7 linked regions of the Homo sapiens genome follow. The protein of the gene in region 4 interacts with the protein of the main gene of each other region in a pairwise test. Each region holds a gene or a part of one and is shown on either strand. Other genes may lie near its edges.

Region 1 (3,500 bases), on a different chromosome or scaffold from region 4:
AGATACTGAAGCTTTGACAGTGGGATATTAAGGGTATTGCTCCAAAAACAGGAGCATGGATGGTTCACATACTAGAGGAATGTATACACTTCTTATAGGACAGGGCTGCAAAAAATCCTGTCCTATAACACTTCTTATAGGACAGGGCTGTAAAGCTGCCTCTTGGCAGCTTTTGCCTCCTACCTCCGACCAGAGGGTCCTTACAGAACCCAGGCTAGTGGGGCCCAAAGGAAGGCCCTTCTGTCTTATCTTCAGTTATGCTATTGAGACCCCCCGGGCTGACACAGTCCTGAAAGCTCAAGTCATGCCCTCCTTCTTGCTTTTGATCTTTCAGGGGCTGTGGTGGTGAAAAAAGCCAGAGTAGGCCAGTAAGGAAGTTCTGCAAGGGTCTATATGCCCCTCATTAAAACCAGGAAAGAGAATGATTAGGACCTCCAAATCCTTAATTACAGGATCACAGACCACTGGAGCAGCAAGAGGCTGATTAGCATGCCTGACTCCCTCCTTCCCAAATGAGGAAACAGGCTCAGTGTGGGTATGGCTCAGAGTCTGACACCCAACCTCCTGGTTTCCTGAGGCCCCTGACTCTACTGACTCCAGAGCCCTGTGTATGTTGTCTCCAGTACCAGTATCCACTGCAACTCCTTTGAGGCCTGGTCCCCACTGTCTCTAGTAGCTGGCCCAGGGTCAGTAACATCTATGGCAGAGAGAGGGAACCTGTGTGGCATCCCACCCTTGGGCCCACTCTCTACCTGCTGCAGGGCACGAGGGAGGATCCCCCGGTGCTTGTAATTCTCAGTTGCCCCCATCATGGTGTATGTCTTGCCAGCTCCCGTCTGCCCATAACACATGATGGTGCCTGCAAACATTTCAAAACACGGTGACATCCAGGAAAATAGCTCCAAGGATAACTCTCCCCTCTCCCAGCATGCCTGGTGCCAGCCAGGGCCCTTTGCATGAAGATGGCCAGTGGGGGCAGCCAAGAACATCAGGAATTCCACCATGGAAGAGGATGGGTGGGCAGGGGAACAGGGACAAAAGTGGTCAAAACAAGGACATCTGCCCTGAATCTGTGGTCCCCACAATGCTCTGCTGTTCCCTCCACCAAGAGATGATCCGGCCCTAGGGCTTCTGAGAAGGACAGGGAATCTCAGGGTACAGAGGAACTGGAACTTTTCCTAAAAAGATGAGGAGGGAGATAGGAGCATTAGACTCCAGCCCTTCTCTAGCACAGCTATGAACTGCCAGGGTCTCAGGGTTGGCAGGAGGCATCAACTTCCCCACAGAGGCAAAGAGGGGCTTTCAAAATCTCCAGGAAGAGATGGAGTGGAAAGGGCATTTTCTGTCAAGGGTGAGAATTCTTTGTAGACTACAAATTCCTGCAGGATGAAACAGGGCTCCTAGTTGGTTCCATGTCACTTCCAGAAATGTACCACCATGATCAGGCCCTGATCTGGTCCACTGCCCACCCTGGGAAGACTTTCATTGCACTTCTCAACATCCTTTAGGTCTACCATCACCACCAGGCTCCGGGACACAAACCATGCAGTCACCCTGAGCTCCGGCTCCTATCTGTTCTTCCCCTTAGCATGGGCAGCCTGAGCCAGACCCCATCCCACAGGCTGCCCATGGGCATTTACATGGCAGATCTGCCCAGGCAATGCTGGGCTGTGAAAATTTTTTGCCTTTGTCACACAGACACTCTAGTTCTTGGGACTGGTGGCAGGTTTTACACAAGCGATCCTGATTCAGCATCTGAGTTGGAGCCAGAAATGGTGTCTATTAACCCAACACAAATGAACAGGAAGGAGTCACTTCAGCTGCAAATCAGAGCCCATTTGTGGTTCCACAGCACCAGTGCTCAAGACTATTCATCTCCCTGGGCCTTAGTTCCTCTGTCTTCACCTCCTCAAGGTCACAATCAGAGCATCATGAAAACCAAAAGAGAACCTCCTTAAGTCAGTGGGGACCACACCTACGTATCACATTCAGGATAAATTACAGCATCTACACTCAATGCACTTTTAAATATAAAACCTAAACTTGCAAAACAGGGAACATCCTAGTCAGCAGCCACCAGATGGCAAAGTCTACAAACTGTGACATATTCTTTTATACAATCCTATACTAGAATATCAACTGTACATTGATTGTGTTGGTAGAATACATGAAAATAGCTCCTAGCAGGAAGCTGAGAGACAAATGTTTGGACTCCATCAAATTTGTCATAAAGACGTATCTTCAAAACTAATACTTGAGAGATTTGAAACAGGATAATTGAACCCCTGTGACCTATAGAGAGCCATAGTCTTTTAATTTTCCTATGAAGGTAGAATCCCAGGACATTGGATCAAGCCATGCCCACAATGTCAACAAGCAAACAGTAAGTTTTGCAACGTAAGAACATGGAGACAGACAAACATACAAATGATAGTGAGTGAGCTTTTATTTTATTCACCATAAAATATTTGCATCTCTTACTCCTCAGGTTCTTACATAAGACAACATTTAATTAATTAAGTTACCATTATAGCCATCGAGGGCCTGAGAAACCACATCCTTTGCAACTGTCTCATAAACCAAGTCCTGGGAGGCATCGTGAAGAACTCCATCCAACTTAAACGACCAGTCTGTCTGTTGGTTATTGACAACTCCTCTCCGAATGTCTTTTTTTAAGTGAATATCAATGCTCTAGGAAAAAAGAGTGAGAAAGAAAAAAATGTTATTTGTTCAAAAATGGGTATAAAAAAAATCACTGATAGCTGAGGCCTAATCTGGAGGGAACAGAGGAAATGAACTGTAGGATGAATGGGGACTCCCACGTAGGGGCTGATATTCCAGATGAATTCTTTGGGATGGGAGAAGAGAGTTCCTGCAGGGAGATGGAAAGATCAGGAGAGTGGAGCACTTTCTAGTTTTAGCACCTCTAACCCTAGTTCACACGGTGCTGTCTTTGTTTCCCCACCTATGATATGAGGTCAAATTTATCATGTTCTTATTAAACAAGTTTTAGATAGATTCCATAAGCATAGGGAGGCCTTGAATTATGCCAGAGGGAATAGTGAGCCTGGTAACAGAGGCCTGGGCTCCAGCCTCATTGCTCTGGTTGCTGGCAGTGAGGCCTCCCTCAGCTCTGCATTATGGTGAACATCTACTTCCACACACACGCTATGAGCCAAAGTGAGTGATGATGAAATGAAAGCCACAGAGAAGGCTATGGACTTCTCAGACATAGGAATTAAGAGTAAATTGAGGGTGTCATCAGCAGATTTTTAGATGCATGCCCCTTCATAGTAAGCCATTGTAGTAGCAGCTGGCTTAGGGACATACTGGGTAAGGTCAGTGGTAGATTCCAATCTTCTTGATGAGAACTTCTGATGTAAAGACTCTTGCTGAAATCTTACACTGACTGCCCTAATGCAGGAGCTATACCTGGCTACAGAGAGAAAAATTAAGATGAAGAAAGACAGACTTGGCCGGGCATGGTGGCTCACGCCTGT
Region 2 (3,500 bases), on a different chromosome or scaffold from region 4:
CTAGTATTAAAGCAGTTGTTCCTGACCAATATCCAATATTTTATTATGTTCCAAAATGCCTACATCACTAATATTTTACATTTTAATAAACTGTTAAGTTCTCACACCAGTCTAACTGCTCTAATACAATTAAAAAAAAAAAGATTAGAGAAAGGATTGCGTGTTGAATAGTTACTTATAAAGCTCTGTGATTGACGTGCTTTGATAACACTTTTTAAGCCTGATTAATAATACCCACATTTAGGTGATTAGAAAACCAATCTGGACTTATTTTAATGGGTTAGATTCAGGAGTCCTTAGAATGCTTATGATATTTCTTCTCAACTGATTCCAGACATTCTATTAGCAGGACAAAAATCAAGTAAAAACATCAAACACGTATTAGATTTCAGGATACTGTATTGTTATTTCCTTGATATATATCTTATCACCATGACCTTGAAATGAATTTTTTTTTTTTTGGTACTCATCTCCCTCTGTCACCCTGGCTGGAGTGCAGTGGCGTGATCACAGCTCACTGCAGTCACCACCTCCCAAGTTCAAGCAATCCTCCTCTGCCTCAGCTTCCCACAGATGAATAGCTGAGACCACAGGAGTGCTCCATGCCCAGTTAATTTTTTATTTTTTTTTGTAGAGACAGGTTCTCACCATGTTGCCCAGGCTGGTCATGAACTCCTGGGCTCAAGAGACTCTCCTGCCTTGACGTCCCTAAGTGCTGTGATTACAGGTGTGAGCCACCTGGCCTGGCAAAACCGGAATTTCATCACAACTGGTGATAAATATTATAAAAACGAGAAGGATTATATGGAATTATTTTCAAGACATACTATTTAATTTTAAAAAGCCAGAACAATATATTGAGTGGAATACTTGAGGAAAACCTTCTTTCACAATTTATACAGGATTCTATTTATGTCCCATAAGTACACCAAAAACACTCTGAAAAGGATACATACCTCTAGAAAAAGGACTGGATTTGGGAAAGGTGGTCAGCAGGATTGCTTTATCTTATTCATTAGAAATTTGTGGTTGGGCCTGGCGGCTCATGCCTGTAATTCCAGCCCTTTGGGAGGCCAAGGCGGGTGGATCACTTGAGGTCAGGAGTTCAAGACCAGCCTGGCCAACATGGTGACCCTGTCTCTACTAAAAATACAAAAATTAGCTGGGTGTGGTGGTGCTTGCCTGTAATTCCAGGTCCATGGGAGGCTGAGGCAGGAGAATCCCTTGAACCCAGAGGCGGAAGCTGCAGTGAGCTGAGATTGCGCCACTGTACTCTAGCCTGGGTGACAAAACGAGACTCTCTCGGAAAAAAAAAAAAAAGAATTTTTAAGAAAAGTGGATTAGTAATTTAAAAAAAAATGAATTCTTGATCTTGTTCTCTTTTTTTTTTTCTTTTTTTTTGAGATGGAGTTTCACTTGTCTGGTGGCCAGGCTGGAGTGCAATGGCACGATCTTGGCTCACTGCAACCTCCGCCTCCCAGGTTCATGCAATTCTCCTGGCTCAGCCTCCCAAGTAGCTGGGATTACAGGTGCCCACCATGCCTGGCTAATTTTTGTATTTTTAGTAGAGATGGGGTTTTGCCAAGTTGGCCAGGCTGGTCTCGAACTCCTAACCTCAGGTGATCCACCTGCCTTGGCCTCCCAAAGTGCTGGGATTACAGGTGTGAGCCACTGCACCTGACCTCTCTTTTCTATCTTAAAAGATGACCAATGAAGGCCAGGTGTGATGGCTCATGCCTGTAACCCCAGCACTTTGGGAGGCCGAGGTGGGTGAATCACTTGAGGTTAGGAGTTCAAGACCAGCCTGACCAATACGGTGAAACCCTGTCTCTACTAAAAATATGAAAATTAGCTGGGCGTGGTGGCGCACGCCTGTAATCCCAGCTACTCAGGAGGCTGAGGAAGGAGAATCACTTGAACCTGGGATGCGGAGGTTGCAGTGAGCCAAGATCGTGCCACTGCACTCCAGTCTGAGCAATTGAGTGAGACTCAGCCTCAAAAAAAAAAAAAAAAAAAAAAAAAAGAGATGATCAGTGAGAAAGCTAAGAAGGCAGATACTAGGAGAAGGTCTGGGGTCAAGTGCGCTGACTTCAGAACCAAGACCACGAAGCCTAACCTTAAGTCCCAGAAGGGTAATGAGCTGCAGAGCCTGCCTGCATATGCAGGCCCCTTCTAGTCAAAGGCAAGGGCAGAGATTTCTAATCCCCAGTGTTTTCTAGAGATGGACTAGTTTACCACCACCCTTGAAACCAAAGTTCAAAGATTCCTCCTACTGCCACAGTACCAATTTCCAGTGATAAGAAGGAAGATACCCTAATAGTTAAAATGATCACCCTTTGAAAACAGGGCCTGGTAAGGTGCTAAGAGGTGGGATACCCGGGTACAATCTAGAAGCACTGCTGTGATGGTTCTGCTATCATTCCCTCAGTACCGAGCTACTTCTGAGGAAAACACATGGTTTTGCTGAAGCAGCTGAGCACTGGCTCCTTGTGCCTGGACCATTAACTACTATAGTTACTACTATGGTTGAAATTTCTGGTATAAAAAATCCAAACCACTTCAATGATGTGTGCTCCTAGGTACTAAAAAGTGAGTTCTTCAACATAAAGAAAGACAAATAAAAGGTTTCAGCACCAGACAAATCGGAAAAGCACAGAATGAGAAGTTCCACAAAAACCATAGCTACTCATGTTCCATATTCTCTCTCAGGACATAATTTATCCTCTTTGCAAAGAACTCAAATTAAAGTAAATAAAATGGATAAGTGTGGTTTCTTCCCATAGCTAATAGAACGATCTCTCGCAAATCTATTCAGTTGCAAAGACAATTTCATATGAAAGGACAGATGTTTTCCAGACACCAGATTATTGACAGTTCAAAAGAGAACTTAATTGTCAACATGTTTGTTATTCCTATGGTTTCTAAGTGCTACTATTTTAATACTCCAATTATGAACACCATAATGAATCTCAATTAGAAGAGGCTTGCCAAATGTCACTCCATAGATCAAGACATCTTGTTATTGTCTTTCAATTTACTTCTTAAATATACAAATGTGGAGTTTTCGTCTCTGGTTTAGACATAAAAGTATTCTATAGCCTGTGTTCCCCTAAGAAGTTTATCTTCAACTTGATTACTCACTCATGTTCAGCCATATCTGGTAGATAAGCAGCATTCTCTTGTGATGGGTGGGCCATAAAAACAACATCAAGATTTGTAAAAGCCCCTGCTTCAATTAAATCAATTTTGCCACCACCATCTTCTTCTGCAGGGGTTCCCAGGACAACTACCTAGAAGGAAATACTCATGTCAGGGAAAAACAACAAAATCCTCATAGGAATATATCAAACAGGTTCACCTGCATATGTATTCACAATCTACATTAAAGTCCTTAACCTATTAAGACAGGTTTTGTTCTATGACGCTTACGCAATGGGCATCAACAAATGGTGCTAAATTAATCACAAAATGTACATTGTTATACCAACTTGGTGCAAAGT
Region 3 (3,500 bases), about 12 Mb from region 4:
TTAAAGATAAGGACAAGAGTGGCAGGTAGGGCATCAATATCAATCTTTAATTTGTGATTCTGTTCATGTTGAAACAAATGATGGCTACACAATTTTTCGAATGAAAATGTTTTGTGGTCTGTGATCTACAGAATAAACCAATAGGTGAACTAGGAATCCTCTCAGTAGTGATTTGTTATTTTGCTTAATTAGTAAGTCAGAGATTCTGAACACAAGTGCCCATGCAGCTACTTAACTCTAAGAGAGAATTGTCATGTAGAAAAACAGGCCTGGTGTTACCAGATATTCTGACTTTTCCAGAAAAGCTGGAAATCTAGATTTTTCTGTGAAATATCTGGATTTTCATTTTTTTTTTTTTTTTTGAGACAAGGTCTTGCTGTATTGCCCAGGCTGAAGTGCAGTGGCACCATCATGGCTCACTGGAGCCTCAACCTCCTGGCCTCAGCTTCCCCAGTAGCTGGGAATACAGAAGCGCGCAATCATGCCTGGCTAATTTTTTAAAAAAATTTTTGTAGAGATGAGGTCTCACTATGTTGCCTAGGCTGGTCTCAAACTCCTGAGCTCAAACGATCCTCTTGCCTTGGACTCCCAAAGTGCTGAGATCATAGGCATGAGCCACTGCGCCCAGCCTTGGATTTTTATGTGTAACCAACAAACTCAGCACTTTTTTTATTTTTGAGACGGAGTCTCGCTGTCACCCAGTCTGGAGTGCAGTGGTGTGATCCCGGCTCACTGCAACCTCCGCCTCCCAGGTTCAAGCAATTCTCGTGCCTCAGTCTCCTGAGTAGCTGGGATTACAGGTGCATGCCACCACATCTGACTAGTTTCTGTATTTTTTGTAGAGACGGGGTTTCACCATGTTGGCCAGGCTGGTTAGTCTCAAACTCCTGACTTCAAGTGATCTACCGGCCTCAGCCTCCCAAAGTGCTCGGATTACAGGCGAGAGCCACCTCACCTGGCCAACTCAGCACTTTTAAAACACTTTGGGGTACATCAAAACGTATCTATAACCTGGATATAACATATACACTGTGAATTTACAACCTGTATTATGGTTTCCTTATGGAAGAAAAACATTAAATTAAAAAAATGACCTCTCCCCGCAAATCTGAGTCAAAACAGTAAGAAAAGCCTTACTTGTATTTAACTTGATGTTCCAGTACTTGAAAGCAGAAAAACTTCACATGATCATCACTGAAAAAGAAAAAAAGAAAATGAGATAAGCAGAATATGAACTGAGGAAAACAAATCAAAGGCAAAATAGTAATGAGTAATACAGCAGAAAAGTTTCTCAAACTAGACCTTTGGCTTGTTTCATACTTACTGGTCTCATTTTATGACATTAAAATCCATTTACTTAAAAAGCTATGAGAACTCTAAATATTACACAATATTTAAAATTTCCATTAAATCTGACAAGCAAACTAACCAAGATATTAAGATGCACCTTGAATACAATGCTTTGTAAGCAGCAAACCATCCCTCTAAATTCCAGATATTAAGATTCCTGGAACAGTCCCTTCATTTTACAATAACAGGTTAGGTGTAAAATTACAAATGGCAGAACAGACAGAGTCTGAGTGAAAGTAAAGATGGTCGTCCAAGTCCTGCTTAAAATTCAACCCCAGTAGTTCTATTGTAGCCAAATCCAAAACAAGCAGGGCCACATGGACTGTCAGTCCAACTTCAAAGTTTCGTACAGGACACTAAATTACAAATATGGTACCCTTGCTTATACAAGATGGGGGCAAAAGTCAACACACCAATTACCCACTTCCAACTGTCTTTCTAGGGGAGTGGCAGAGTTGCAGTTAGCCAGCTATAAACACTGACAAAGATCTTCTAGAGACCAACAATCTGCCAATGAAGTGAGTATAAGAGAGTTCCTATTTCCGTAAAAAGTTAGTTGAATGCTTTAGAAAGATTTCATAGAAAGCCACACTGCAGAAGGAAAAAATCTTGTACATATTTGACATGGCCTATATAACCAGAAGACTTGAGAGGCGGGGACAAATATCTTAAAAATCTATGGATCGTCACTCATTGTACAGAGACCCATGCTAGAAATTGTAGAGGATGGGTTACAGGTGTGACCAACCTACGAATAAAGTGAATGCTAGTTAGTATACAAAGATAAAGACTGTGGTCCAATATTAAAAGATTGGTCACCGAATGATTATATACCTTAAGTTAAAATTAAAAATTAAGATATAGGCCGGGTACGGTGGCTCACGCCTGTAATCCCAGCACTTTGGAAGGCCGAGACGGGCGGATCACAAGGTCAGGAGATCGAGACCATCCTGGCCAACACAGTGAAACCCTGTCTCCACCAAAAAGAAATACAAAAAAATTAGCCGGGCATGGTGATGGGCACCTGTAGTCCCAGCTACTCAGGAGGCTGAGGCAGGAGAATGGCAAGAACCCAGGAGGCGAAGCTTGCAGTGAGCCTAGATTGCGCCACTGCACTTCAGCCTGGGCGACAAAGCGAGACTCCATCTCAAGAAAATAATAATAATAATAATAAAATAAATAAATAATTTTAAAATTAAGATATATATCATTTACAATCACCGTCTTTACCAAAGTTTTAGGAAAGCAGTTATCACCCTCAATCATAAGATAAGGAAGTTTTTACTGCACTTTATTCCAGCTGGGATCTGGTGACAGGTACACAATATATACCAAAGGATGGTTTTACTGAAAAGTTAATTCTGAAATGGCCAAACTGGGTTTACTACTTTTCTCATTTCTACATGGAATGACTATATGTTAATGGCTTTGCAAAAAAAAAAAAAAGTCATAAAATGTTTTTATGAAAACACTTTCCAAATACAGGTAAATTTCACAGTCCTGTCATGTCCACAGAAATTTAAATTGTCATGCAAATTTTGTTTTTAATTACCTGTATGTCCTCTGGGCTAGAGCTTCTGCACACACCTGCCAGGCATCTGGGGAAATTTTTAACTGCTCAAAATAGGCCAGGGCCTATAAGATTGCAAAACAAAAAAATGCATTTAGAATAAACAATCTCAATGCCCTGCTAATATAAACAAAATATTCTGAGAGTTGCAAACCTATAACAAATCAGTAAACTTAATAGAAAAACAGTTAAAACATTAAATGCAGGCTTCCGAATATATGCAACTTGGGGTCATTCCTAAAAATAGGTTAAATAAATATAAATTCCATCAGTTAGATAATCAAACCTGTTTTCTTACAGCAGCAACAACACAAAAATGCCCCGCAGCCTTCATGGGGTTATTATGAAGAATGAGAGCAAGTGCTTTGTCAAGTGCCATACTACTGAGAAATTGCAGAGGATGAGTTAAGGGTGTGATCATTTTATAATATGCAATTATAAAATGGCACGTGAAGGGCACTTTTCCTATTTAATAGCACATCTGCTATTAAAGCGGTGATTATAAAAGATAAAACATACTGTGTACCTTATCTGATCTACTGTTACACAGGAGAGTATTTCAAGTCTTTAATTATATCAT
Region 4 (3,500 bases):
TACTAAACTACCCCAGCTCTGATGCTTCTCCCCCGAACTCCCTTATCCCATGGCAGGACAACATCTAACAAGGAGAGAGTACTGATTCCCAAATTCTAGGACACTGGGTAATTTCCCAAGGAATCAACACATACCTGCTCCCTTCCCCTTCCCTGAAAAGTATTAAAAAAAAAAAAAGGCAAGCTGTCCCTCAGCTCATTGGTCAGGGGGCTTCCTACCCTTTGAAGATGCCTCATTCTGGGCGCTACCCCTCCAAAGGCAGAGACCTGGGTCTGTGGAAAGGGAGAGAGAGGTAGAAAGTGATGGAGTCACACTGTGCAGGGGGAAGCAGTGTCCCAGATGTCCCCAATGCTCTTAAAGAAGCCGTTTATGTTGGCATACTGAACAGACACGTGTCACATTCAAATCTATGTAATTCCAATTCAGAGGATGCTTACCCACCCTCATGCCTGGGGAAAGCACACAGATGGGAGCCTTGAGAAGTAAGGCTGGGAAAGATTTTCACCACACTGATCTTTTGGGATGAATGGGAATACCTAGGGAATAGCTGGGAGAATCTGCCAGGAATACCAAGGAAAGGATTCCTGACCTAGATGGGTAGTTAACCACGAAGATTTAAGATTCTTCATCTTATGCCTTGGTGATGCTGAGTTTACTGCCCTGCAGGAGCTGTCCCAGTTGCAGACCCAGGTCGGTGACACATCCGTGGTGCTGTCCATGGACAACAACCGCAACCTGGACCTGGATAGTATCATCGCCGAGGTCAAAGCACAATACGAGGACATTGCCAACCGCAGCCGGGCCGAGGCTGAGTCCTGGTACCAGACCAAGGTGAGCATGGACACCTCCATGAGAGGTTCCAGGGTTAGTGTTCTCTGAGGCTCCACATTATCACTTAACTCAGCCTCAGGAAACGTGTGAGCACATTCGTTTATTTCAACTTAGCAGGCATGTCTTTGATGCTATGACAACTTAGCTTGAAATGCATGTGGAAACCGAACCAGACACACTAATACATGGTCAGCCCAATGCTGGGAGCTCAGGACATCCACTGGCCCCACATTCCTCAAGATCTGGGTGGGAGCAGGGTGAGACACCAGGACAACCGAGACACAGTCATGAAGCAGTTTCTAAAAGGCTTATTTATTCTCTATATATTTTCTGAGCTCCTGCTGTATGCCAATCAGGGTTACAGGGTTGCAAATAAATAAACTGCAAACAGAGAACCCAAGCTCTGGGAGGCCATGAAGTGAATGGACAATCATGGAAGGGAAAAGATAGCATGAATAAAAAGCTTCCAGGAAGACATGGGGGCTTTGTACAGTTGGGAAGCCATGAGGGACAAAAGATTGCTGAGGAGTGGGGAGAGGTTTAAGGCTGAACAAGGAGCTGGCAGGCAAGAACAAGCAAGGGAGTTTATGTCAGGAAGAGGAAGGCTGGGATAAACACAAACAGCTACTGCCCAGAGCTCAGACAGCCGCAAAGAAGTTTGGCTTTGCGGGGTACAATTGACCCATGATACCAGCTCCCTGTCAAATCCAGACCCCTCTTGGGGCAGCTTCTCACCTACGAGCAGGTTCCAACTCTTTCCCTGCTCCATACGTTGCCTCATCCCTTCTGGTCAGGAGTGTGGTGGAAAGGAAGGTGGGTAGCAGGGACCAGGGTTCCACAGGGCAGAGGCAGCGCCTTGACGGTGAAAGGAAACATGATGCACTTAACCCCAAGGTGAAGTGGTTGAAATCGATAGCAAACGATTCCTCATGTTGTTGGGTTGTTGCTCCATTTAATCATGTATACCTAGAAGCGGGAACCTGAGCTATTCAGCACTTTCAAGAACCCCACAGATCTTGACTCTGGCAGGGGATCTCCTTTTGTCAGGGAAAGGTGTAGGTTTCACTTCAGTCTGCTGGAGGAGACAGGGTGTAATTATTGCTCTTAAATTCACATGTCCTGGATATGCACCATTAGATTGAGAACTACCTGAGATTGGGAATACTTTTACAAAGTCTTCAAAATTGTGCCTTCCACAGCCTCTGCACCATCCCACACCATTCCCCCATATCTCCTCCCTGTTTCCCCAGCACTGGTGTTTGGAGGGCTACCAAAATTCATGGGCACAGTTGGTCTGGATGCACGCTCTGTGACCAGGAACTACCCAGGGACCTTGATCAAATCACCGTCTCACTCCTAGAACTCACCATGTTCCTTCCCTGACCCAGAGTCTTCATGCAGGCTGTTTCCTTTGTCTGGAATGTTCTCCCCCACAACTGGTCACTTAGGTCCCTCCTTCTCATCCTTCAGACCACAGTTCAAGCATCTCCATCTCTGGAGAGACTTCTCTGACCACCACTTCCCACTTCCAAATCTAGGTCAGATTCCTTCATTACACTCTCCCAGGACCCTGTTCATTTCCTAAGGGCACTTATCTTAGTGTGGAACTATACATTTGATAATATGCTAATTCAGTTAATGTCTATGTCCCCCAATAAACTGTAAGCTTCAGGGGGAATGAGTGAATGACCAGGAATGAATGAGCCTGCTTGTGGCACCCAGGGTGGGTCTGTGTGCACAGCGAGTGCCTGGGCCAGGCATTTGACTCAGTGACTGGGTTTGCTCTGGTTCTCTCAGTACGAGGAGCTGCAGGTCACCGCAGGCAGACATGGGGATGACCTTCGAAACACCAAACAAGAGATCTCTGAAATGAACCGCATGATCCAGAGGCTGAGAGCTGAGATTGACAGCGTCAAGAAGCAGGTAAAGATTTGGCAGGGCCAAGAGCTCCTCAAATGCTCATTTCTTCTGGGCCTTTCTGCCATCTTTAAGAACTCCTCCCCAAGAAGCACCACACCTCCATGGGCTGTCAGCAGGACTCATGGCTTCCTCCTGTCCTTACAGTGTTCCAGCTTGCAAACGGCCATTGCTGATGCAGAGCAGCGGGGAGAACTGGCTCTCAAGGATGCACGGGCCAAGCTGGTGGACCTTGAGGAGGCCCTGCAGAAGGCCAAGCAGGACATGGCTCGGCTCCTGCGTGAGTACCAGGAGCTGATGAACATCAAGCTGGCCCTGGACGTGGAGATCGCCACCTACCGCAAGCTGCTGGAAGGCGAGGAGTGCAGGTGAGGCAGATGCACCAACTTCATCCTCAAAGCAAGTTGAGCTCACCTCAGCTTCCTGGGCATTCCTAGGGGCTCGGGCTGTTGCAGCCCCTTCTTCTCCTGGAAGAAAATGCAGTTCAGAATTGGGCTATGGCAAAAAAATAATTTTAATTTCCTTCCAGGCTAGTAAATCATTTGAGGTGCAACTACAGTTAGCATCCCCATAGAAACCTAAAACCTGATCAGGTCTAAGTAACTGAATTCTACCAAAGGAGACATTTGGTTACATGGCAGCTCTCGAAATGTGGTCTAAAAGGCCATGGGCTGAGAACAAACAGTCCTAGGATTTGGGCTTACAGATCTAACACTAAGTAGCTACATAACCTTGGGAAAGTCAGTCTCCCT
Region 5 (3,500 bases), on a different chromosome or scaffold from region 4:
CCACATTTTGTTTCTCTAGCATCTGTCAGTGAACATGTGGGTTGCTTCCACCTTTTGGCTATTGTGAATAATGCTGTTATGAACATAAGTATACAAAAATATCTGTTTAAGTCCCTATTTTCAATTCTTCTGGTCTATAGAAGAGAAACTGCTGGATCATATGGTAATTCTGTTTAATTTTTTTGAGGAAGTGTCATACCATGCTCCATAGTGGCTGTGCCATTTTACATGGCCACGAGCAGTACACAAGGGTTCTAAATACTCCACATCCTTGCCAACACCTGTTACTTTTGTTGTTTTTTTTCTATTCTGTTTTTACTAATAGCTATCCTAATAGGTGTGAAGTGATAGCTCATTGTGATTTTGGTTTGTATGTCCCTAATTAGTAATGTTGAACATCTTTTCATGTGTTTATTAGCCATTTATATATCTTCTTTGGAGAAATGTTTATGGAAGTCTTTGGCCCATTTTTGAGCTGAGTTGAGTTTTCTTTTTAAATTATAGAGTTGTAGGAGTTTTCTATATATTCTGGGTATTAATGTCTTATCAAATGTAGCGTTACAAATATCTGCTCTCATTCCATGGGTTGCCTTTTCACTGTCTTGACACTGTCCTCTGATACACAAGTTTGTGATTTTGATGAAGTCCAATTTTATCTACTGCTTCTTTTGTTGCCTGTGCTTGGGTGTCTTATGGAAGAAATCACTGCCAAATCAATTGTTATGAAGCTTTTCCCCTATGTTTTCTTCCAAGAGTTTCATAGTTGCAGTTCTTATGCTTAGATCTTTGATCCATTTTAAGTTAATTTTTGTATTTGGTGTAAGGTAAGTATAAATATATGACTTTTAAATCATGTTCATTAAGCTACTGTCCAATTTGTCAGCTTCTGGTATCCTCTCAGAAAAAGATTGCCAGCAACTACTGGGCAAAATTTAACATATTAAATCCTTTAAAAAGTTAAGGATAATATGTGTTTTCCTGGAAACATACCTTGCTACATATTTCAACAGTCTGGATCTTTTATTTGCTAGGAATAGCAACAAGGCAACGACTTCAAGGCTGATATTCCCTACTGGTATATATTCCAGCCTATTCATTCTCCCTGACATACTAGATCCTATGATTCTGATTACTAACAATAGATTTCACAGGAATGGAGCCTCGTCATTTCCTACCACTTCCACATATACTGTAGCTTACCAAAGTTCTACTAATGTTGGTGTAAATTATCAAGGTTTTATTTCTTATATTTTCTCTGGAGTGAGGAGGAGTGGGGTGGGGAAATCTCATCCTACCTAAATGCTATGCTCCTTCGAGGCTGTAAACTGACAGATCCGCTACATGGCTGATTCAGTGTATTGCGTTTGAAAATGATGTATCGATTGGTGTAAGTTACAAGTAGGTCGAAGCCGAAGTTAAAACCTGTCCAACGCCAGCAGTACTAAAAAATACAAGAGAGAAGACTTATTTCAGTTTATCATATTAGCAAGTAGAAAATAAAAAATTCAAAATGTCTTTTTGTCTCTAACTCATTCCAAGTATTTCCCTCATGGGTGGTCGACTTTTTGTCAGTGACTTTTTCTTAAGGCTTACCACCCAAAACTATTTATCTAAGCTAGAAAAGCTGCCCTTAATGATCATAATTCTCTAAGCTACTTTCCTCTTCATGATCAGTTTCCTTATCTCTCCATACTGCAATTCTACCATAAATAATAAGGCTTTTTTTTTTTTTTTTTTTTTTTGAGACAGAGTCTCATTCTGTCACTCAGGCTGGAGTGCAGTGGCATGATCTTGGCTCACTGCAACCTCCACCTCCCGGGTTCAAGCGATTCTCCTGCCTCAGCCTCCCAAGTAGCTGGGACTACAGGTCCCTGCCACCACGCCCGGCTAATTTTTTTTTTTTTTTTTTTGAGACAGAGGTTTGCTCTAGTTGCCCAGGCTGGAGTGCAATGGCATGATCTTGGCTCACCACAACCTCCACCTCCCGGGTTCAAGCGATTCTCCTGCCTCAGCCTCCTGAGTAGCTGGGATTACAGGCATGCGCCAAGCCTGGCTAATTTTGTATTTTTAGTAGAGACGGGGTTTTTCCATGTTGGTCAGGCTGGTCTCGAACTCCCGACCTCAGGTGATCCGCCCGCCTCGGCCTCCCAAAGTGCTGGGACTACAAAGTGTAAGCCACTGTGCCCGGCCTTTTTTTTTTGTATTTTGAGTAGAGACGGGGTTTCACTATGTTGGCCAGGCTGGTCTTGAACTGCTGACCTTGTGATCCACACGCCTCGGCCTCCCAAAGCGCTGGGATTACAGGCGTGAGCCACTGCACCCAGCAATAATAAGGCTTTTCACTGCAACTCTAAGTGGGTATATAGCTTAGAGCACTAAGAGTTTCTAGAGCACTAAGGTAATTAAGAGCCCATTAAAATCCACCTTGCTTTAAAAATACTCTTAAGGGCTGGGTGTGGTGGCTCACGCCTGTAATCCCAGCACTTTGGGAGGCCGAGGCGGGTGGATCACCTGAGGTCTGAGGTTCAAAAACAGCCTGGCCAACATGGCGAAACCCCATCTCTACTAAAAATACAAAAAAGAATAAAAAAAAATAAAAATAAAAATAAAAATAAAATACTCTAACTCAAGTAACACACAACTGGGTTATTTAAATATCATCATGGGGTTCACGAGTTTGTTTATTCTATCAGCTAATAGTTAATGTGAGAGTATCAGATAAGGTAGTGTGATACAGAGAAGTAGTTAGGGCTTCAAGTGTTTGGCTGACACCCTGAATTGCAATTCAGTATTTAACTGATATTTATTGAGCACATATTATATGCCAGGCACTCCTCTAAGCAATGGAATCATAGCAGTAAATAACATACAGTTTCTGCCCTAGTAGAGGTGATAACTGTAAGGGCAAAGCTTTTTTTTTTTTAAAGAGACAGGGTCTCGTTATATTGCCCAGGCTGAACTCTAACTCCTGGGTTCAAGCAATTTTTCCACCTAAGCCTCCCAAGTAGCTGGAATTGCAGGTGCATACCACTGTGCCTGGCTGGAGCAAAGCTTTTGAATAGGTGAGCATGGATAGAGTCCAGTACAAAGAGAGGGAATGGACTAAGATAGAAGTAGGCAGTTCATTTTTCTAATAAGATGAAATGCATAGCGCATAGCTACAGGTGCAGGTAGACTGGCAGAACTACTGGTAAGATGATGTACAGATTCTCTTTTCATTGCAGTAGGCAGCAAGGCCATCAGATAAGAATAAGGGTGGGAGCATTGCCCTTTTAAGGAGAGAAGGTATGAGTTACCTCAGCTAATGGGAGGATCAATTCACTAGGAAAATGCAGACAGATCATGATGCAGCACTAACCTACTTCAAGTTCATGGTTACCACATTCAAGTGGAACCCAATGGGGTACGGTGTTTGTCTTTAATCACATTCATCTGTCTGGATGCAGGCATGGAGTGCAACCCTTGACAAGAGTTGGGGTTTAGCCAGGTGAGTTTAACAT
Region 6 (3,941 bases), on a different chromosome or scaffold from region 4:
ATTTTAACATTGCCTTAAATAGCCTAATGAGGATATTCTCACGACAAAAAAATCTGTATTATCCAAAAGCTCTGCTTCATCTCTTTAACATCAGGCTAGCAGCCCAAACCAATGCAGATGCTATCTATATAAAGAGACAGCAGGTTCAACCATGAAACAGAAATTAGTGCTGAGATCTGACTAGTATAACTAAAACTTACTGTCAGGCACTGAGTAAGCATATTAATGTATTAACTAATTTACCTTCACAACAACCCTATGCGATAGATACTCTTACTACCCACATTTGATTGATAAGAAAACTGAGGCATACAAAGCTATGCCATTAATAAAGGTCACAGAGCTACAAATGGCAAAGTCAAACAGACTTTTTTTTTTTGGAGACGCTTTTTTTCTTGAGATGGATGGAGTCTTGCTCTGTCACCTGACTGGAGTGCAGTGGTGCAATCTCAGCTCACTGCAACCTCCACCACCCAGGTTCAAGCGATTCTCCTGCCTCAGCCTCCTGAGTAGCTGGGACTACAGGCGCATGCCACCACGCCCAGCCGATTTTTGTATTTTTAGTAGAGATGGGGTTTCACCTTGTTGGCCAGGATGGTCTCGATCTCTTGACCTCGTGATCCGCCTGCCTCGGCCTCCCAAAATGCTAGAATTACAGGAGTGAGCCACTGCACCCTGCCAGTGCTTTTTTTGTTGTTTCTTGGAGACTGCATCTCCTACGCTGCCCAGGCTGGAGTACAATGGGTATTCACAGGTGCCATCATAGTGCATTGCAGCCTCAAACTCCTGGCCTCAAGTGCTCCTCCCATCTCAGTATCCCAAGTAGCTGGGACTACAGGTATGTGCCACTAGGCCGGGCTCAGAGTCAGTGCTATTAACTGTTATGTGTGTTCACCACACTACCCTTGGGTGATTACAATTACAATTTGAAAGGGGGCACGAATTGTCCTCAGAAAAAGGAGGTTCTCAACCTTCAGAAACAGAGTCACAGCTACATATCATCAGTTCTTCAAATACCTAAAGGTACTGAAGCTGACCTAGTAACAGTGACTTGGGTTGTTCTGTTTGGAGTAAGCCTTTGATTGGGGGGACAGGTACAGAGCAGACAGTAAATGAAGAGTTCTAGATCAAACCATCCTAGTCCACCATGAAGCGATGCTGATCCTGAAGCAGGCTTCAATAAGAAGGCTACTCCCAACTCTGGCTAGGGCAAAACACTCACCAAAGGAAGTGAAGGCCACATTCACTGTGTTCTCTGGCTCCAGTCCCTTTCCTTTCTCTCCAACACCAAATCCACTACCTCTCAGGCCATGCTTAGTTTGGCTACTGAGACTGATATTTTTCAAAAGTGGTTTGATGGGAAGATTACAAAGGAGAGAAAAAAACTACCAGAAAAGAAAAGAGCAAGTTCCATGATCCTTTCTTTGCATCACCACACTTGTCCAACTGTAAAGTAGCTCTCAAATATTAGGGGTCTCAAGGATAGGCAGTGCGGTGCTAAACATTCCCAGAGCTTTACATCAGTCCACTTGATCTCTTACCAGAAACTGATCTACATTTTTTCTCTCTAATCCCAACCTGCCTTTCCCTCACCTCTGATACCCCCACCAAAATCCACATCCCCAGAGGAACACTAATGAGCCCTTCTTACCAAAAAAGCAAAAGTAGACACACAGCGAGAATGAATTCAGGAGTCAGTGACAGCAGGTACCTAAATGGTCAGTGAACACGATCAGAATTTGTTTTCTCGTGACTCCCCACCATCTGTCACCCACAAATCTCCACTTCCAGGCAGGACGCCAAAGTGAAGAAGTGATGGGGATATTGAAGCAGAAACAATGAGCATGTAGGAAACTGCTTGTGACAGGGATGTGTTAACATCCTTCGGCCTGGTCTCTAGGCCTCTGTCCAGGTTTACTTGCATAGGTGAAGGCACACAAGGCTTAATTCTACACCAACTCTCAAAAGTCAGCCTGCAATCTACGCCAAACACTAACTTAAGGACCTCAGACAAAGGACAAACTCTATAAAAGTGAGCCCTTTTCAGACCAAATGTTTCTTGGCATCACTCTAAGCCCATGCATCCTCCTCCCAGGGAGCATGCCAGCCAGAAACCTGTCACTGGAAGCCACCTTACCCGCTCTGGGGTTGGACTGGGGCAAGTCGCTATCTCTTCTTCTTTCCAAGTAGGCACTGTAATTTCTTCCAGTCCCTGGGGCACCTGAATCTTCAGCTGAAATTGGGGCAGATGCTGCTAACAGCTGTGGAAAGGCTGATCTAAGCCTAGAAGAGGGTCATTTGACTGGCTTTAGTTCCCTCCTTAGCAGATCTGCCCGGCATCCTCCAGATCTCTCTTCCTCACTATCCCACTCTACTAGAAAGATCCCTTTCCCCTCTGGCCGGCCAGATACAGTCGGGCCTCTATCCCACGCTCCAGGCTTCTTTATTCGCGGCTAAGAAATTTTCCTCCAACTTGTGACTCTGCTTCTCCAGGGCCTGCACAACACCTACTTCTGGCTGCCCCGCCCCCAAATCCCCCTCCCCTAGGGCTGCCACTGGACCCTAGGGCCCCGGTCCGCCCCAGCTCCTTTTTTTCCTCTCCGCCTCGGACCTTACTCCATTCCATCTCCTCTTTTCAACCCTGGAGCCAGTACCCCCTTCGCCCCTACTACAGGCTAGGGCCCCCGCAATCCTCCCCAACTCTGGCTTCCCCGCCCGACTACTCCAACCCCACAACAAACTTTCCGCCGCTGCCAGCTGCGTTCAGGCCGCCATCTTGCCGCGGGGCAGGCCGGGTAGTGGCCAGGGCCGCGGGAATCCCCACGCACTTGGCGTGTCGCGTCATCTGAGGCGGGGCCATGGGGGCGGGGCCTCGGGTTGGGGAGGTGGGACACTAGGTAGGTGATGGTGAAAAATGGGGCTCTCCTGAAAGCAGGGATTGGAGGACTGGCCACAGAAGGAAGGAGGTGTCAGGAGCAGGGCAATAGCGGGAAGCGGGGAAAGAATCCAGTACTGAAAGAAAAAAAAAAAAAAAAAGAATAGGGGAACACATCTCAAAGATACAGTGGGAGAGAGAATCGTGCTACTGGTTCCCCGTCATCCAGAGAATAAAACCAGCTTTTCAGTTTGGCATTCAAAGATCCGCATGATCCAGGCTCTTCCACCTTCATCAGCCTCATTTTTTGCCTCTCCTGGGAACTTCAGGTTCCCAAATTGTCCTTTGTTTTCAGGACATCGGGCCTTAAGATGTCTAATCTCTCTCCTCCTCCTTTGCATCATCAATTCCTCCTATTCCTTCAAACCATCAGCTAAAATGTCACCTCCCCCAGAAAGATTTCCCTTTAGTGCTCCTTTTGCTGGGCATCACTAGCAACTTGTACATAGCTTTACTGTAGCTGTCCCGTGCAGTGTAATTATTTATTTACATGTTATACCACTTTTGCCCTGCTGCTTCTTCAGGGCAAAAACTATGTTTGATTGCATCTTCATACTCCCTAGCAGGTGCTTGGCACACAATAATTGCCTAATGAATAAATGGCATGTTTTCCTCCAATGCATTAAGCATATTTCTGCCTCAGGGTCTCTAAATTTGCTATTCCCCATACCTGGAATGTTCTTCCTCCAAATATTGACTCTCATTTGTGTCTTTGCTCAAGTGTCATCACTTTAGAGAAGCCTTCCTTGGCCACTCAATCTAAATCAGCATCCCTATTCTCCTTTACCCTGCTTTAATGTTTTCATTCATAGTACTTATCATTATCTGACATTATATTAAATATTTATTGTTTATTGATCATCTCCCCACTACAAAGCAAACTCCAGAGGTCTGGGATGTTTTCTTGCTCATCACAGTATCCCCAGTGTCTAAAACAATGCCTGGCATAGTAGGTATTCAATAGATTTTTTTTATTCTGTTTGTTTAATTAATTAATTAATTTTTG
Region 7 (3,500 bases), on a different chromosome or scaffold from region 4:
TACAAAGGTGTGATCTTGACTCACTGTAACCTCCGCCTCCCGGGTTCCAGTGATTCTCCTGCCTCAGCCTCCTGAGTAGCTGGGATTACAGGCATCTGCCACCACGCCCAGCTAATTTTTGTATTTTCAGTAGAGATGGGGTTTCACCATGTTGGCCAGGCTGGTCTCAAACTCCTGACCTCAGGTGATCCACCCGCCTCGGCCTCCCAAAATGCTGGGATTACAGGCATGAGCTACCGCGCCCGGCCCCTCACAGTCTGACAAACTCACAGTGCCCACCTCATGGTGCCCCGAGGCCTGACCTGGAGCCCAGGGGGGTGAGGGAAAACCGGCCGGGTGCACCTGTCATAGCTGACCTGGAGACCAGGGGGGTGAGGGGGAAGACGGCCAGGCGCACCTGTCATAGCTGACCTGGAGACCAGGGGGTGAGGGGAAGGTGGTGGGCGCACCTGTCATAGTCCTGGCAGATCTCGCCCACGGACACCAGTGCCTTCAGGTACTCGTTCGGCTGGTAGGGGTTGATGTAGTGCAGGGAGCAGCTGTTCCGCGGGTCTCCATTGGAGGCGGTGAAGTCAATGGCCACCTGCAGTGGGCCGGGAGCCAGGAGCTGTGCTGGGCCGGGGCTCCCCGAACCCGCTCCTGACAGGTAGAGAAACCACGCCCAGAGTGGCCAGGACTCAGGGTCAGGGGTCGCGTAGGTGGGTAGGGCTGGGGGGCTGCTGTTGGGGCTGACCCACCTGCTACACAGGGCCAGGAGAGGTCTCCTCAAAACCTGCCAGCCCCTAGGCTCCCTGGATCTCCGGGAGGACACCCCACCAGGATCACCCTGGCCTTGTGGGGGCCCCGCCCATCCTTCTTAGTGGCCGCCCAACCCCTCTACCACCCTCCCCGGCAGGGCCTAAGTGGACCAAGCCTGGTCTGGGTCCCCCCACGTTTCCCACTTGCTGGCTTCTCCCAAAGCCATTCTGGGGCTCGTTCAACAAAACACGAACCAGCGCATCTGCAAATAACACGCGGGTGACACGGGGGCCGTGTATCTGTGGGTGACACGCGGGTGACACGGGGGCCGTGTATCTGTGGGTGACACGCGGGTGACACGGGGGCCGTGTATCTGTGGGTGACACGCGGGTGACACGGGGGCCGTGTATCTGTGGGTGACACGGGGGCCGTGTATCTGTGGGTAACACGGGGGGCCGTGTATCTGTGGGTGACACGCGGGTGACACGGGGGGCCGTGTATCTGTGGGTAACACGGGGGGCCGTGTATCTGTGGGTGACACGGGGGCCGTGTATCTGTGGGTAACACGGGGGGCCGTGTATCTGTGGGTGACACGCGGGTGACACGGGGGCCGTGTATCTGTGGGTGACACGCGGGTGACACGGGGGGCCGTGTATCTGTGGGTAACACGGGGGCCGTGTATCTGTGGGTGACACGCGGGTGACACGGGGGGCCGTGTATCTGTGGGTGACACGGGGGCCGTGTTTCTGTGGGTGACACGCGGGTGACACGGGGGCCGTGTATCTGTGGGTGACACGGGGGTGCTATGGGGGTGACACGGGGTGTGCGTATCTATGGGTGACGCGGGGTCTGCGGGTGACATGGGGGTGACACGGGGTCTGTGCCGGGCTCCTTGGATGACACGTAGAGACTGTGGCTGGTTCACTCAAACGCTCACTCCAGTTTCTCCTCGTTCACGTTTTGTCTGTTGTTAAATGTGTTTGTGGAAGGTAAGCCCTGGTGATGTCACCTCCCAAGGCGGGCTTGGGGCTGCTTCCTGAACCCCAAGCCCGTTTCCTCGCCTGCGCAAAAGGGAGGACCCCCAGGAGCCGCGCATGGAGACATCGGCTCACGGGGAACCGCCAGTGCCCTTTCACCCGCCAGGCTGGGACCCCTCGGGAGCGGGGCGGGGGCGGGGGCGGGGGCGGGGCCACGGACTGAGGGGGCGGGGATGGGCGGGGCCACAGACTGAGGGGGCGGGGATGGGCGGGGCCACAGACTGAGGGGGCGGGAGGGGCGGGGCCACGGACTGAGGGGGCGGGGATGGGCGGGGCCACAGACTGAGGGGGCGGGGAGGGGCGGGGCCACGGACTGAGGGGGCGGGGCGGGGCGGGGCCACGGACTGAGGGGGCGGCATGGGGCGGGGCCATGGACTCACGGTGAAGTGGATCTGGCAGCCGCCCATGATATAGTCCAGGAAGGAGTACACCCTGTGGAACTTCCGGCCGGCGGAGTCAGCGTCCACCCCCGCCAGGGACACTGAGGCCAGTGCCAGCTGGGATCCAGGCCTGCCTCCCGCAGGCAGCCCAGTCCCTCTGGGGTGCCACCCTCCTCTCCTCTCCCCCATCCTCTCTCCCCAACCTCGCCCTTCCCCGTCTCTCAGCCCCTCCCCAGACGTGCTGGGGCCCACCAGGCCTCTGGTTGAGGGTCCATCCAACAATCAGAGGGAGGCAGCGGAAGCCCCTCTTGTGGGTGGGGAGGCTTCGGGCACAGCCACCTCTCACCTTGAGGTCAGCCAGGACGACCACTCCTGAGTTCTTATAACTGCGTCTCTTCTGCTTGTATTTGGGGTTCACACAGTCCCACTGGGCCTGGGGCAGGAACAAGCAGAGGCCCCCCAGAGTGGTGGCTCTGAACACCTACCAGGGAGACCCTACCCAAGACCATCCCCAATAGCGACGGCAGAGGGCCCCGTGGTGGGGAGGGGAGGGGAGGGCACTGCTGCAGGGCAGCAGGAAGGGGCAGAGTGGGTCATACGGGAATGAAGAGGGATGGGAGTTGCATCCCCCACCCGGCATGGCCCTGTCATTAAGCCCAAGGACACTGAGGCCCAGGGACGGGGGAGGAAGCAGGGCCCAGGGTGGCCTCCCCACTGCACCCTCACCCGGCTGCTGTGGGCTGGGCAGACACAGGGGAGGGCACCCCTTGGCCCCACCTCCCACCACCCCTGTGCCCAGACCCAGATGGTGCCTGAAATGTCCAGCTGAACCTGATGGGGGCCACCCCTGCTATGACCCCTCAGGAGCCAGCACCAGGGTCCACCATCCTCAGCCTTCTCTGGTTATAACAAGTCATTGTCACCACTCCCCACAACCCCATCAGGACAGTGGGACAGGGTTTCACAGCCTCTGTGGCAGGGCCAACACAGGCGTAGCCCAGGTGTGCCCCCGACTCACCTGCCCCTCCCCAGAGGCCCCCCTCACCTGCCCCTCCCTGAATGCCCCCTCCCCCTGCTAACTGCCCCTCCCTGGAGGCCCCCCTCACCTGAACCTCCCCAAAGGCCCCCCCAACCTGCTCCTCCCCAGAGGTGCCCACCCACATGCCCCTCCACGGAGGCCCCTACCCCACCCCCCACCTCCTCACCTGACACTTCCTGGAGGTACCCCCCCAGTCCTGCTCACCTACCCCTCCCCGAAGGCCCCCCTCCACCCCCACCTGACCCTCCCTGGAGGACCCCCTACCCCGTCCTGCTCACCTGCCCCTCCTCAAAGGCCTTCTGCATC

The links.
Region 1: the proteins of KRT75 (region 4) and KIF9 interact in binary tests that used the Homo sapiens proteins (3 or more experiments, as listed by UniProt).
Region 2: the proteins of KRT75 (region 4) and PM20D2 interact in binary tests that used the Homo sapiens proteins (3 or more experiments, as listed by UniProt).
Region 3: the proteins of KRT75 (region 4) and XPOT interact in binary tests that used the Homo sapiens proteins (3 or more experiments, as listed by UniProt).
Region 5: the proteins of KRT75 (region 4) and GMCL1 interact in binary tests that used the Homo sapiens proteins (3 or more experiments, as listed by UniProt).
Region 6: the proteins of KRT75 (region 4) and TJAP1 interact in binary tests that used the Homo sapiens proteins (3 or more experiments, as listed by UniProt).
Region 7: the proteins of KRT75 (region 4) and CPNE7 interact in binary tests that used the Homo sapiens proteins (3 or more experiments, as listed by UniProt).

The regions. Positions count from the first base shown.
Region 1 is NC_000003.12:47,272,800-47,276,299, forward strand, and holds part of KIF9 (kinesin-like protein KIF9), read right to left. Parts: intron 2,692-3,500; coding exon 2,526-2,691; coding exon of another isoform or gene 2,509-2,525; exon of another isoform or gene 2,429-2,508; intron 860-2,428; coding exon 753-859; intron 1-752. UniProt on the Homo sapiens protein: Essential for normal male fertility and for progressive motility of spermatozoa.
Region 2 is NC_000006.12:89,149,055-89,152,554, reverse strand, and holds part of PM20D2 (xaa-Arg dipeptidase), read right to left. Parts: exon of another isoform or gene 3,291-3,500; coding exon 3,142-3,290; intron 770-3,141; exon of another isoform or gene 649-769; intron 1-648. UniProt on the Homo sapiens protein: Catalyzes the peptide bond hydrolysis in dipeptides having basic amino acids lysine, ornithine or arginine at C-terminus. Postulated to function in a metabolite repair mechanism by eliminating alternate dipeptide by-products formed during carnosine synthesis.
Region 3 is NC_000012.12:64,414,392-64,417,891, reverse strand, and holds part of XPOT (exportin-T), read right to left. Parts: intron 2,986-3,500; coding exon 2,903-2,985; intron 1,195-2,902; coding exon 1,138-1,194; intron 1-1,137. UniProt on the Homo sapiens protein: Mediates the nuclear export of aminoacylated tRNAs. In the nucleus binds to tRNA and to the GTPase Ran in its active GTP-bound form. Docking of this trimeric complex to the nuclear pore complex (NPC) is mediated through binding to nucleoporins.
Region 4 is NC_000012.12:52,427,872-52,431,371, reverse strand, and holds part of KRT75 (keratin, type II cytoskeletal 75), read left to right. Parts: intron 1-666; coding exon 667-831; intron 832-2,628; coding exon 2,629-2,754; intron 2,755-2,895; coding exon 2,896-3,116; intron 3,117-3,500.
Region 5 is NC_000002.12:69,867,660-69,871,159, reverse strand, and holds part of GMCL1 (germ cell-less protein-like 1), read right to left. Parts: intron 3,462-3,500; exon of another isoform or gene 3,359-3,461; intron 1,442-3,358; coding exon 1,296-1,441; intron 1-1,295. UniProt on the Homo sapiens protein: Possible function in spermatogenesis. Enhances the degradation of MDM2 and increases the amount of p53 probably by modulating the nucleocytoplasmic transport.
Region 6 is NC_000006.12:43,476,429-43,480,369, reverse strand, and holds the start of TJAP1 (tight junction-associated protein 1), read right to left. Parts: upstream 2,801-3,941; 5' UTR 2,742-2,800; exon of another isoform or gene 2,284-2,741; 5' UTR 2,138-2,283; intron 1,712-2,137; exon of another isoform or gene 1,652-1,711; intron 1-1,651. UniProt on the Homo sapiens protein: Plays a role in regulating the structure of the Golgi apparatus.
Region 7 is NC_000016.10:89,585,758-89,589,257, reverse strand, and holds part of CPNE7 (copine-7), read right to left. Parts: coding exon 3,473-3,500; intron 2,589-3,472; coding exon 2,502-2,588; intron 2,216-2,501; coding exon 2,156-2,215; intron 1,703-2,155; coding exon of another isoform or gene 1,664-1,702; exon of another isoform or gene 584-1,663; coding exon 450-583; intron 1-449. UniProt on the Homo sapiens protein: Calcium-dependent phospholipid-binding protein that may play a role in calcium-mediated intracellular processes.